Homo sapiens: one gene and its partners. The protein of the gene in region 2 interacts with the protein of the main gene of each other region in a biochemical or structural test. Each region holds a gene or a part of one and is shown on either strand. Other genes may lie near its edges.

Region 1 (2,480 bases), on a different chromosome or scaffold from region 2:
GCTTGACTAATTTACTTTTTTGTAAAACCAGTAGTCTCCAACCTTTTTGACACAAGAGACCGTTTTGTGTAAGACAATTATACCACGGACCAGGGGGTGCAGGGGCTGGGAGCAATGATTTCCGGACTAAAACTGCTCCAACCTCAGATCATCAGGCATTAGATTGTCACAAGGAGCCTGAAACCTAGATCCCTTGCATGTGCCATTCACAATACAGTTTGAGCTTATGAGAATCTATCTAATGCTGCAGCTAACCTGACAGGCGGTGGAGCTCAGTTGGTTAATGTTCGCTCACCCCTCAGCTGTGCGGCTCAATTCATAACGTGCCATGGACAGGGACCGGTTACCGGTCGGTGGCCGGGGAAATGAGGACCCCTGGTATAGATGGTAGTCTGGCTATGTTGCCCAGGATGGTCTTGAAGCCTGGCCTGAATTAATTCTCCAATCTCAAGCCTTTTCAACTCAGCTGCATCACAACTTAAACCTATAGATAACTGTCACAGAAACTTGTTTCCAGTGTTACGCCATCTTAAAATAATGTGGGTGGCTCTTAAAAGAGCCTTTGGGTTCTTTCCAAATTGGCCTCCCGGAAAGCTCTTTACTTCTTAGATGTGGCCTTTCTAACATTAACTTCATGATGTTGGGTCAATTTTGACTTCGAAGCCCTTGCCTTCACTGGGCTCTTCTGCTGTTGCTTACCCTTGGCTCCTTTAGCCTTTCTCCCGCTCCTAACAGTTTTAGGAGTTGTCGCTCTCGGCTTCTTGGCTCTCTTATTGGTTTTAGCAGTCTTTGGTGACTTGGAGTCCCTGGATAAAACCAGCTTCTTGGTCTTGGCAGAAACTGACTTTTTAGCCTTGCTTCTGGTAGATTTAGGAATCACCTTCTTACTAAGCTTAAAGGAACCGGAAGCACCAGTACCCCTGGTTTGCACCAGGATTCCCTTGTTCACTAAGCTCTTGAGGGACAGTTTGATGCGGCTGTTATTCTTCTCTACGTCGTAGCCAGCAGCGGCCAATGCCTTCTTGAGCGCAACCAAAGACATACCTACTCGTTCCTGTGACACTGAAAGGGCCTCGGTGATCAACTTGGACACAGAGAGGTTCGGCACTTTGCGACTTGCACTTATCAAGCCAGCCGGCTTCCTCCCTCGCTTCTTGGTTGGAAGTTTCTCCATAGCGGCTACACCAGCACTGGCAGAAGCTGCAGGCACGGTTTCAGACATAACAACAGAGAAACGCAAGATGTAATAACCAGCGAAAAGCATGAAACACCCGGGCGGCCTCGGGGCCTTATATAGGGTAGGGCGCGCTGTGATTGGTGCATCACCTAGGCACCGCCCCCGCCCCTTGGAGGAGGAGTATTTGTGTTTGTTTTACCCGGAAAAGTTGAGTATAACAAAACCCCTCTTTACAGAATCTCCCAGGGTCTAGTGCTGAATAATCTGCGGAAATTCATATTTGACATGACTTTTCTCTTTTTAATGAAAAATGACCCTGGATGCCAAAACTATTCGAGAAAGCCCTCGATTTTCAATCAAATTCACGGAGAGGAACAAAACTTCCCCTTTTCCTTGTAAATTAATAAGTAATCTTTGGCAGAAGACTTATTTCATCTCTTCAGAGTGGTCTTCCAAATGGATAGCTTCAAATCGGTAGAGGAAAGAAATTATTCACGCCATGATTTTTATTTAAAATTATTTATATATGTGAGGGAAGTAACACAGATCTCTTAGCTGTCTAATTGCGGAGTCAGAAGATGCTTATAGAATTGTCAAAAGACTGCAGAGGATGTCTTTATTTAGGCATGTGCAATCTAATAAATCATAATCCACAGGAACATGGGTTGTCTGTAATTAAAGGTGCTCCCAAGTCCCTGTAGCTTTATAGAGGACTCTCAAGGATGGGGTAATATCAAGATCTCACACATTATGTAAGATTGGCCATAATCAGGCCACTCTCATGACCGGTGTCCTCAACTGAGTTTTGCTTCTGGTTTCATTAATTGAAGTCCCCTCTATCCCCCTGCCCACCCCTACATCCCCAGATAAACAGACACAGTCCCTCCCCTAAATTAACTATAAAACATGAGGTAGGAACCCTAGACTCAAGAACCTACTAGAAACTACAGACCCCATGTCTAACAAGACTGGGCGGGTTGGCTGGGCGCAGTGATTCATGCCTGTAATTACAGCACTTCGGAAGGCTGGAGGCCAGGAGTTCAAGACTAGGTTGGCCTGGTCCCTACTGAAAAAAAAAAAAATTAGCTGGGTGTGGTGGCACATGCCTGCAGTCCCAGCTTCTGGGTAGACTGAAGAGGATCACTTAGAGCCCAGGAGCTTGAGGTCGCAGCTACTGCACTCCAGCCTGGGCAGACCCTCATCTCTGAATTGCTTAATTAATTAACTGAGCTGGCAGATTTGGCTGCATAGCTGTGGGGAAAGGGTTGTTGGAATAATGTCCAGTGTGCTCCCCTGAGCTTCT
Region 2 (3,574 bases):
CACTAGGGATTTGTCATTAAGACTACCAGTGCTTTAAAAGAAAGCTCTTGCTCTTTTGTTTGTGCAGCAATCACAGGCACACTGGCAATAGCTCTTTTGTGAGTTGTTTCCTCCTGATATATTAAGAACCATCTTCATTGTATTAATCAGTGATTAGAGGCAATAGGACATGCAAACAACCAGAGAAGCTATGAAAAAAAATAAGTAAATATTTACATAACTTGGAAAGGTCACTTTTTAAAATAAAATATGTGACTAGAGTTTTGGGTAGGTAGACTAGACCCACTCAAATGTGTGACTAGAATTTTGGGTGGGTGACTACAGTGTTCAGAGGGTAGGATCACCAAACAGAGTTCTCAAGAAAAACTTATAATTTGTATTTTAGAAATGGTTTTATCTTCTCTCATCTTGTCTAATTCAAAATCATAAATATTTGCATATATGTGAAATCTTCAAATGAGAAAATATTATAATTATTAAAACGAATTTTTAAAATTTAAGCATGTTTTTCTTATTTTGACATAGGTTTTCACAGTTTTTCATTTTATGAATTGAAGAATGTCACAAATAACTTTGATGAACGACCCATTTCTGTTGGTGGTAATAAAATGGGAGAGGGAGGATTTGGAGTTGTATATAAAGGCTACGTAAATAACACAACTGTGGCAGTGAAGAAGCTTGCAGCAGTAAGTTATATTTTCAGGAATAAAAAGAAAGAGTTGCTTCATAGTGTGCCCTATAATAGGTTTTAAAGTTAATCTTTAGGAAATACATTATTTCAGTATGTATTTTCTTTAAATAAACATCATTCTAAATAGTAGTTCTTAAAATTTTAAAATCTGTTGAACACTATGGACCCTACCCCTAGAAAAATGTGGTTATGTCCATGTACACAAGATCATACATACAATTTTGGGAGATTCACAAACTAAAGTTGAGAAGCCCTGCTCCACATAGTGCTTCATGTGTAATCAAGATTAAAATGGTAAGATACCAGGAAAACTATTTTTAAAAAACCTTGTTTGCATTACTTTTCCCATTTAAAAATAAAATTTAGGAAGTATACATTAAGAAAAAACATTAAAATTTTTTTTATCTGTGTCCTTTGTTGCCATTTCTACTGAGGTGTTTACCTTTTACTTACTTGTTATATTCTAAATCTTTTGTTAGAGCCTAAAAATATCAATAGAATGCATATGTATGTGATAAAGATAGTCACTCTTTGTCATATATGTTGCAGGGCTTTTGTAGGGTTTTTTTTTCCATTTTGCACCTAAATTGCTTATGTTTTCTGTTTCCTAGAATTTTTTTCAAATTTTTTTGTGTAGTGAAATTTCGTGTTATTTCATTTTGTTTCCACAACTCAGTGAAATTTATATATATTTTTCATTCCACTAACCAGCCATGGGCCTTGAGCAAATCACTAGTATTTCTAGATCTCAGTTATTCTGTAGAATTGGGAGAATAATACACTATTGTTTTAAAGAAAGGGAGATGAGCCAGCTGATCTCTTGATCCCTCTGAGCATTAGGAACCTTAGAATTGTGTAGTATTACATTGTATATTTTATTTTTTCAGATGGTTGACATTACTACTGAAGAACTGAAACAGCAGTTTGATCAAGAAATAAAAGTAATGGCAAAGTAAGTCTTAATCTGGCAGTGCGGTGTAGTGGAAAGAAAAAAGACAAGGAGTAAAGAACCTGGTTCACTCTAGAGTATGCCATGAACTAGTGATGTTTGCACATATATGAAATTAAAATAAAGTGTTTAGATTAGAGAAATTGAAAGTACTTTTGGCTCCATAATTCTATGATTACATATACTCATATGCCTGGAGATTAAATAGCAGTCATTTTTATTTATTTATTTTTTTTGAGACAGAGTCTCGCTCTTTTGCCCAAGCTGGAGTGCAGTGGCATGATCTCGGCTCACTGCAACCTCTGCCTCCCAGGTTCAAGCGATTCTCCTGCCTCAGCCTCCCGAGTAGCTGGACCTACAGGCGTGTGCCACCATGCCTGGCTAATTTTTTTCTGTATTTTTAGTAGAGACGGGGTTTCACCGTGTTAGCCAGGATAGTCTCGATCTCCTGACCTTGTGATCCACCTGCCTCAGCCTCCCAAAGAGCTGGGATTACAGGCGTGACCACGCCTGGCCGCAGTCATTATTTTAAGTCACAACAAAGTTACGTGAAATTTCACTATCATGTCCTTCATTATCATGTTTTCCACTTCCAGAATTCATGAGAGATCAATTGTAGAGATACTTAAAAACAACTATCTATAGAGTAATAGGCCCTTATATATAAAGTAGCATCTATAGAGCAACTAGAGTCATGTTATCTGTAAGGATGCTTAGAAGGCATTGATCCTGTGTGCTGGAAAATTGTTGGACATCATCAGGAAAAGTAGGAGGGACAAAGTAGGAAATGTATTCTAATTATTATAGTGATTAATAGTGATTGATATTTGAGTGTGTGCAACATGCCAGACATTGTGCTATGTACTTTATGTGCATTGTCTGTCTAACCCTTACAACTGTTACAACTGCCCATTTTGTTTGTTAACTGAGATTTAGAAACATTAAATAGCTTGTCCAAGATCACATAGCCAGTAAGTGTTAGAGATGGGATTGAAATCCAGATCTGTTTGATTGCGGAGCCTGAACTTTAGATCTGAATCGTAATGGGATTTACCAAATTATACCCATTAAACCCACTGCTGTAAATCACCAATCATAGTTACCTAACCTCAAGTAAGAAGAATAGACTAGAATTGATTTATGCACGGTAAAAATGATACATGCTGAAAAAAGATCAAACTTTTTTTTTCAGGATTTGTCTTCTTCACTCCTACCCCTACTCTCCAATTCTAAAAGTAACTTGTTCACAGTAGGTCATCTGGAAAATACAGGAAAACATTTTTAAAATATACAAGCCTATATGCATGCAGGACTTAATACGTAGGTGATGGGTTGATAGGTGCAGCAAACCACTATGGTACACGTTTACCTGTATGACAAACCTGCACATTCTGTACATGTATCCCGGAACTTAATAATACAAACCATCTCTCAAATATATCACTCAGAGATAACCACTGCTAATATTTTTATATACTTGCTTCATGATGTGTGTGTAGCATTTTCCCATGTCACTAAAAATAATTTGAAAACATTTTAAATTATTGTACAACAGTCTAGCATATGTGAAAATCATATTTTATTTAACCATAGCTAGGTTTGTTTCTAATTTTCAGTATTAAAAATAAAGCTTCTTTAAAGTTCTTTGCACATAAATCTTTAAATGCAGTTATACTTACTTTATCATCTAGGGTAAAGTCCTAGAAAAAGAATTACTAGGTAGGAATGCATGAACTTTTTAAAGACTTTCTAAATACACATTCAAATGGCTTTTGAGATAAGTTACTACCAGCAATGTATTACAATTTCAAACTTTACTGGTTCCTTACCTTCATTTAATATCATTACTTTTTTTTTTTTTTTTTTTTTTTTTGAGACGGAATCTCGCTCTGTTGCCCAGGCTGGAATGCAGTGGTGCGATCTTGGCTCACTGC
Region 3 (3,240 bases), on a different chromosome or scaffold from region 2:
TTGGGAAATTATATGTCTACAAGATAAGAAATACATCCGGGATGCCTCCTGTTGGGCTGTTGGTCCCCTAGTGGATCTTCATGAAGGCAGGTAGAAACAATGCAGCCAGTTGTCTCTGCCGATTTGACATTTGGTAGCTGGGTCCTTCCTGCTGTCCCCACCTCCCGAGTAATTAGAGCAGCCACTGTGGTAGTGGTGTAAGTGAATGCACTCTTTGTGGCATCCTGACTGGCTTGGCAGAGTGTTGGAGTTCTCTGCTGCAAGATGATGCAGCATAAGCACTTCCGGGCAACTATAATCAGATTGGAACCCGCCGACCCTTCACCCGGAAGGCCGTACCCCAGGCCCAGACAGGAAGCAGCAGGGACCTCAGCTTGGCTGGCTCTGCTAACAGCAGCAGAATTAATCTCCCCAGGGCCTGCAGGACATGATTCATAATTACCTTGGGAACCTCACAGTACAAGACAGACAATAGTTGCCTGTGTCTTAGTCTGTTTTTTTATGGCTGTAACTGAATACCTGAGACTGGGTAATTTATGAAGAAAAATGGTTTATTTCTTACAGTTCTAGAGGCTGGGAAGGCCAAGGGCATGGTGCCCGCATCTGCTGGGCTTCTGGTGAGGGCCTCCTGCTGCATCATAACATGGCGGAAGGCATCACAGGGCAAGAGGGGCACATGAGAGAGAACCAAGCTGCCTTTTTATAACACTCTTGTGATAACTAGCCCACTCCTGTGGTAACCCATTAATCCAGGAATGGGCTAATCCATTCATGAGGACAGAGCCTTCATGACCCAATTACCTCTTAACGGCCCCAACTCTTAATACTGTTACATTGGGGATTAAGTTTCTGTATGAATTTCAAACCATAGCATTCCAGCCCTGGACCCCCCAAACTCATGTCCTTCTCATATACACATATATTAATTTGGTCCCCATATCCCCAAAGACTTAACACGTTGCAGTCCTAGCTCAAAAGTTCAAAGTCCAGAATTTCATCTGAATCAGACAAGACTCACAGCATGATTCATCTCAAGCTTAATTTCCTTCCAGCTGTGAGCCTGTGAAACTAAACAAGTTATCTACTTTCAAAAAATAGGGGCTGTCCCTGGCCCCTAAAAACATCAGCTGGTGGCCAGGCACAGTGGCTCATGCCTGAAATCCCAGCACTCTGGGAGGCTGAGGCAGGATGAATACTTGAGGCCAGAAGTTCAATACCAGCCTGGGCAACAATGCAAGACCCCATCTCTACATAAAATTTTAAAATTAGCCAGGCATGGTGGTGCATGCCTGTAATCCCAACTACTTGGGAGGCTGAGGCCAGAGGATCATTTGAGCCCAGGAGGTCAAGGCTGCAGTGAGCTATGATTGCGTAACTGCACGCCAGCCTGGCCAAGAGAGTGAGACCCTGTCTCTAAAGAAAAAAGCAAAAACAACAAGAGTCAGACGAAATGATATAGTCTGGATATTTGTCCCTGCCCAAATCTCATGTTAAATTGTAATCCCCAGTGTTGGAGGTAGGGCCTGGTGGGAGGTGTTTGGGTCGTGGGGACAGATCCCTCACAGCTTGGTGCTGTCCTCATGATAGTGAATGAGTTCTCTCGAGATCTGGTTGTTGTAAAGTGTGGGAGCGCCACTCCACCCTCTCTCTTGCTCCTGCTTCCTCCATGTGACATGCCTGCTCCCGCTTTGCTTTCCACCATGACGAAAAGCCCCCTGAGGCCTCCCCAGAAGCCAAGCTGAGGCCGGCGTCATGCTTGTACAGCCTGCAGAACCGCGAGCCAGTTAAACCTCTTTTCTTGGCTGGGCACGGTGGCTCGCACCTGTAATCCCAGCACTTTGGGAGGCTGAGGAGGGTGGATCATCTGAGATCAGGAGTTCGAGACCAGCCTGGCCAACATGGCAAAACCCCGGGTCTACTAAAAATACAAAAATTAGCTGGGTGTGGTGGTGGGTGCCTATAATCCCAGCTACTCTTTTGGGAGGCTTAGGTAGGAGAATCGCTTGAACCCAGGAGGCGGAGGTTGCAGTGAGCCGAAATTGGGCCACTGCACTCCAGCCTCGGAGACAGAGTGAGACTCCATCTCAAAAAAAAAAAACAAAAAAACAAAAAAAAACTTATTTTCTTTATAAATTACCCAACCTCAGGTATTTCTTTATAGCAATGAAAGAATGGCCTCATATACCAAGCATTCACCCATTGTTGACCTGGCCCTCTGTCCCCTCTCTCCCCAGGTGAAGAGTCACAGTTTGAGATGGACATTTAAAGCACCAGCCATCGTGTGGAGCACTACCAAGGGGCCCCTCAGGGCCTTCCTGGGAGGAGTCCCACCAGCCAGGCCTTATGAAAGTGATCATACTGGGCAGGCGTTGGCGTGGGGTCGGACACCCCAGCCCTTTCTCCCTCACTCAGGGCACCTGCCCCCTCCTCTTCGTGAACACCAGCAGATACCTCCTTGTGCCTCCACTGATGCAGGAGCTGCCACCCCAAGGGGAGTGACCCCTGCCAGCACACCCTGCAGCCAAGGGCCAGGAAGTGGACAAGAACGAACCCTTCCTTCCGAATGATCAGCAGTTCCAGCCCCTCGCTGCTGGGGGCGCAACCACCCCTTCCTTAGGTTGATGTGCTTGGGAAAGCTCCCTCCCCCTCCTTCCCCAAGAGAGGAAATAAAAGCCACCTTCGCCCTAGGGCCAAGAGTTGGGCCCCGTCTGAGCTTTTTTCAACTCTGTTTGGTAACTAACACCAGCTGCTATCTGTACAGTGCTGCTGCTTTTTTTTTTTTTTTTTTTTTGAGACGGAGTTTCACTCTTGTGGCCCAGGCTGGAGTGCAATGGCGCAATCTCAGCTGATTGCAACCTCCACCTCCTGGGTTCAAGCAATTCTCCTGCCTCAGCCTCCCGAGTAGCTGGGATTACAGGTGCCCGCCACCATGCCCAGCTAGTATTTTTTTGTATTTTTGTAGAGACAGGGTTTCACCATGTTGGCCAGGCTGGTCTCGAACTCTTGACCTCAGGTGATCCACCCGCCTTGGCCTCCCAAAGTGCTGGGATTACAGGTGTAAGCCACCGTGCCCAGCCTTGTACAGTGCTTCTAAAGCGTGGGCCTGTCCTTATTTGATTCTGACTCTGATCCTGTGGGTAAGTAGAACAACTGTTATCCTCACTTTACAGCTGAGAAGACTGGCACAAGAACAGGTAAAATCGTGCAGCTGCTGAATGGCACATGGGACTGGATTTGAGT
Region 4 (3,574 bases), on a different chromosome or scaffold from region 2:
ATAAAATGTTATTAAATAATATGAAATATTACATTATTAAATGTTAATTTAATATGGTAAAATGGTTTAAATCATGCTTATATGCATTAAAAAATCTCCAAAATGATTAACAAGACATGAATGTAGCAGTTGCCTTTGTGGGGAAAGGGACTGAGCAGGTGGTATACAGGGAGATATTTTACACTTTTCGATTTTTGGAACTATGCGTATGTGTTAGATATTTAAAAACTAAATAATCTTAGATAAAATATATAGTCATATTTATAAAAATAGTTATTAAAGTGCCAGTTTGAACTCAAAAATAAGATTTATCATGTTTGGGCAAAATACTAAATGTGGTTTTACTCTCCATGCCATTCCATTATATAATCTTATAAATGTCTTCTTATTCTGTTAAGGAAAATATCTTCCTACATAAGTATATGTATATTCTCCCCTGTTGATATTTTTATGGAACTTTATTATTATATCTTTTTAATACTCATTAAAATTATTTTCAATTTATAAGTTTTTTTACTACTTACAGTAGCAGTGAAGATTTTAAAGATTTTTTTTACAGAGAGAATTCTTAATACTAAAAAAGTGAATAAAGCCTATTTCACAATTGTCAGTGATACTTTTTTACCACTTAAATTCAAAAACTACTGTGATGGTACCTGTTATAGGTAAGTCAGGTACTCTCAAAGTGTGAGACATTAAATTCCTTTAAGAAGAATCTTGTTTCTTCGGAATTTTTCAGAGTTTCATAGATATTCTTTAGCGACGTACGTGTCACATAGTGTATTCCGCACTGTTGAACAGTCACATTCGACTCACATGCTCACTTTCTTCCCTCTCATCTCTGCAGAATGAATTAAAAGATTTAGTTGGACTTTTTCAGCTTCCCGTTACTAACTTCTGAGTACTTTATGCATACTTCCTATTTTGTCATACAGAATATCGAAAGACTCAAGATTTAATAAAGTTCATAATTTTTAACTGCAAATTCACAGCAATGAAAAATACAATGACTGCTAATACAGTTTGGTGCCACTGCTTTGAATCATGCCAAAGCACCAGCAGCTTTACCCACCATTGTTCTAGCACCATCAGCATAGAGACCAGCACAGTGGAAAAGGCAGTTAACGTCTTTGTATTATTATGAAGGTAATTTTGGCCTCATGTACCTAGACCCCATGGCAGGGTCTCAGGGACCCTCTGGGGTTCATCAACCACATGCTGAGAATACTGATTTGTACCAACCTCTTAATTTCATAGCTGAGAAATATGGGTGTTTGAAAGGAAAAGTAATGTAAACTAAGGCCAGAAGAGAAGAGGCATTAGGGGCAGAGCTAAGATTTAGGTCACTGAGCTCTTCATTCTCTGAATAGTACCAGCTCAGCCTCTTTAAATAAAGTATGGTAAGCCAAGCAAGAATTCACATGTTTCTTAAGGAAATATAACACATTACATTCACAGACTCACTGGACCTGTTAGAAGGATCTGTGGCAGATCATTTTAAGCAGAGAACTAAGCAACTCTCATAAGACCTTGAAAAGACAGGCTTGTTTCCATTTTTTCCTCCTTTTAACAAGTTTATATTTCCAAAGCCTACTACTGACAAAAATCACTGAGCAAAAAGCGCGACAGCACTCATAGTTCTGAAGTATGGACCTCAGTGTGGAGAGTTTGTTCGTTTTAGTCATTCCCATTAAAATGATTTCTAGGGTTAATTGAGTATTTAAAGGCAGAATATCAGAAAGAACCAAGAAAGGGCTTTATGCTGCATTTCCCACTGTTGGAGTCAGTTAGTAGACTCAGAACTCAGAAATATTATTGCCTGAGGAGAAAAATCAAAGCTAGATCTGAATTTAAGGTATAAGAAATTGTTAGTTAATATAATCAGAGTAAGATCTTGGTCATTATTTTCTGGAGTAGGCATAAACAAGGAAAGAAAGAAAAGTCTAACAAGAAAGTGAAACATAAAAGAGAAAATAGTTAATGGAAGGAATTAGAGGGGTGCATTGTCTTTACAGTGTCCCTAGAGTAACGTGTGGTGCCAAGTGCCTTCTGACCTTAGGGGCCAGGAGACTGACTGGGCCCTGCAGCCGGTGTTCAGGGGCCCTTTCTCTCAGATTTCACAGTTTCACAGGCTTCGAACGCGGTGCTACAAGGCCTAACAGTTTTGGGTTTTGGTTTTTTGTTTGGTTTGGTTTGGTTTGGTTTTCAATTTAGTTGATTTACTGTAGTTTTAGATGATAACATTTAATTAGTATCTATTAAGTTAAGAGGAAAATATTAAAGAATATCTACATTTTCTAGTGGGTATTTCTACAACCATTGTACATGAGCATGCATGTGCAGGTATGTTTGTATCTCATAGGATTCAGCCTCCCTGTCATAATCTTCCAATTACTAGTTTCATCTCTTGACCATCTGCTGTGTCAGAAACTCCTTTGATGACTGGGGAGAGATAACTAAGGCTCTCCTCTCAAGGAGGCTACATCTGGAGAAGGCAGACCACAAATAAACAAACCCTCTGGGCAGAGGAAACAGTGAGCGCAAAGGCTCCAAGTCAAGATCACAGTGGAGAAGGACAGCAGTGAACTCAGATGGACTTGGAAGGGCAGGTAGAGGCTGAGACAGGTAGGACCTTCAGGCCAGGTTGAGTCTGAGATTTATTCTAGGAATTTTGGGAAGCTGTTGGAGGATTTTAAGCAGGAGAGAGGTATAATCTGATTTATGTTTTTGTACGATTTCTCAAACTACTGTATGGAAAAGAATCTAGGTGGCAAGTATGAAAACAGGGAGACCAGTTTGGAGGCTAAGGTGATAGAACCCAAGTAAGACATAATGGTAACCAGAACCAAAATGGGAAAAGTAGAAGGATTGAGGATGTGTTTGGAGGTACAGCTGACAGTGTTTACACAGGGCTAATGTGGGCATGGAGGAAACTGAAGAATCAGGTTATTCTTGGGTTTTGACTTTTAGCTTGAGCAAATTGGATGTCAGTCAGTCATTGATATAGGGAAGCCCCAGGGTGAAGGGGGATCCAAGTTCTGTTTGGCATATATTACATTTGAGATATTTATCAAACATACAAGTGGAGATTGGGTGTGCCGGTCTGAAGCTCAGGGGAGAGATGAAGACTTTGAGCTGTTAGGTGGGATTTGGTGATACTATTTAGGGAGAGAACAGAAAGAAAAGGGAAGGGGGGACTATTTACCAACTGGCCTGAAAGTTTCATTATTTTAGTACCAGGTAGAGATGGACCGGCATATGCTGGCTCAGCATAAGCCCTGGATTTAGCAATATATTGATTTTTGGAATCTTAGCATGCGTGGTTTCAGTAGAGTTGTGGGGAAGGAAGCTCAATTGGAGTGGGTTGAGGAAGAAGGAAGCTAAAGATATGGGTGAGGAAGTGGAGGAGATAACAGGTTTTCCAAGAAGTCTTGCTGTTAAGTGAATCAGAGAAACAGGGCTGGAGCCTGGGGCTTGCTTGCAGGTGAAGGAAAGCGTTTTTAAAGGTGGGAGACTACGCCAGAGCAGGGCTACTCAAACTGCACTCCCTCTGCCCAGCAGTGAAATGTTTGTT

What was found.
Region 1: of the proteins of IRAK4 (region 2) and H1-6, one has a biochemical effect on the other in vitro, tested with the Homo sapiens proteins (one large-scale study listed by BioGRID).
Region 3: of the proteins of IRAK4 (region 2) and EIF4EBP1, one has a biochemical effect on the other in vitro, tested with the Homo sapiens proteins (one large-scale study listed by BioGRID).
Region 4: of the proteins of IRAK4 (region 2) and PELI2, one has a biochemical effect on the other in vitro, tested with the Homo sapiens proteins (one study listed by BioGRID and IntAct).

The regions. Positions count from the first base shown.
Region 1 is NC_000006.12:26,106,872-26,109,351, forward strand, and holds H1-6 (histone H1t), read right to left. Parts: upstream 1,265-2,480; 5' UTR 1,223-1,264; coding exon 599-1,222; 3' UTR 541-598; downstream 1-540.
Region 2 is NC_000012.12:43,772,387-43,775,960, forward strand, and holds part of IRAK4 (interleukin-1 receptor-associated kinase 4), read left to right. Parts: intron 1-525; coding exon 526-686; intron 687-1,578; coding exon 1,579-1,643; intron 1,644-3,574.
Region 3 is NC_000008.11:38,057,670-38,060,909, forward strand, and holds the end of EIF4EBP1 (eukaryotic translation initiation factor 4E-binding protein 1), read left to right. Parts: intron 1-2,234; coding exon 2,235-2,266; 3' UTR 2,267-2,696; downstream 2,697-3,240. UniProt on the Homo sapiens protein: Repressor of translation initiation that regulates EIF4E activity by preventing its assembly into the eIF4F complex: hypophosphorylated form competes with EIF4G1/EIF4G3 and strongly binds to EIF4E, leading to repress translation.
Region 4 is NC_000014.9:56,282,361-56,285,934, forward strand, and holds part of PELI2 (E3 ubiquitin-protein ligase pellino homolog 2), read left to right. Parts: intron 1-3,574. UniProt on the Homo sapiens protein: E3 ubiquitin ligase catalyzing the covalent attachment of ubiquitin moieties onto substrate proteins. Involved in the TLR and IL-1 signaling pathways via interaction with the complex containing IRAK kinases and TRAF6.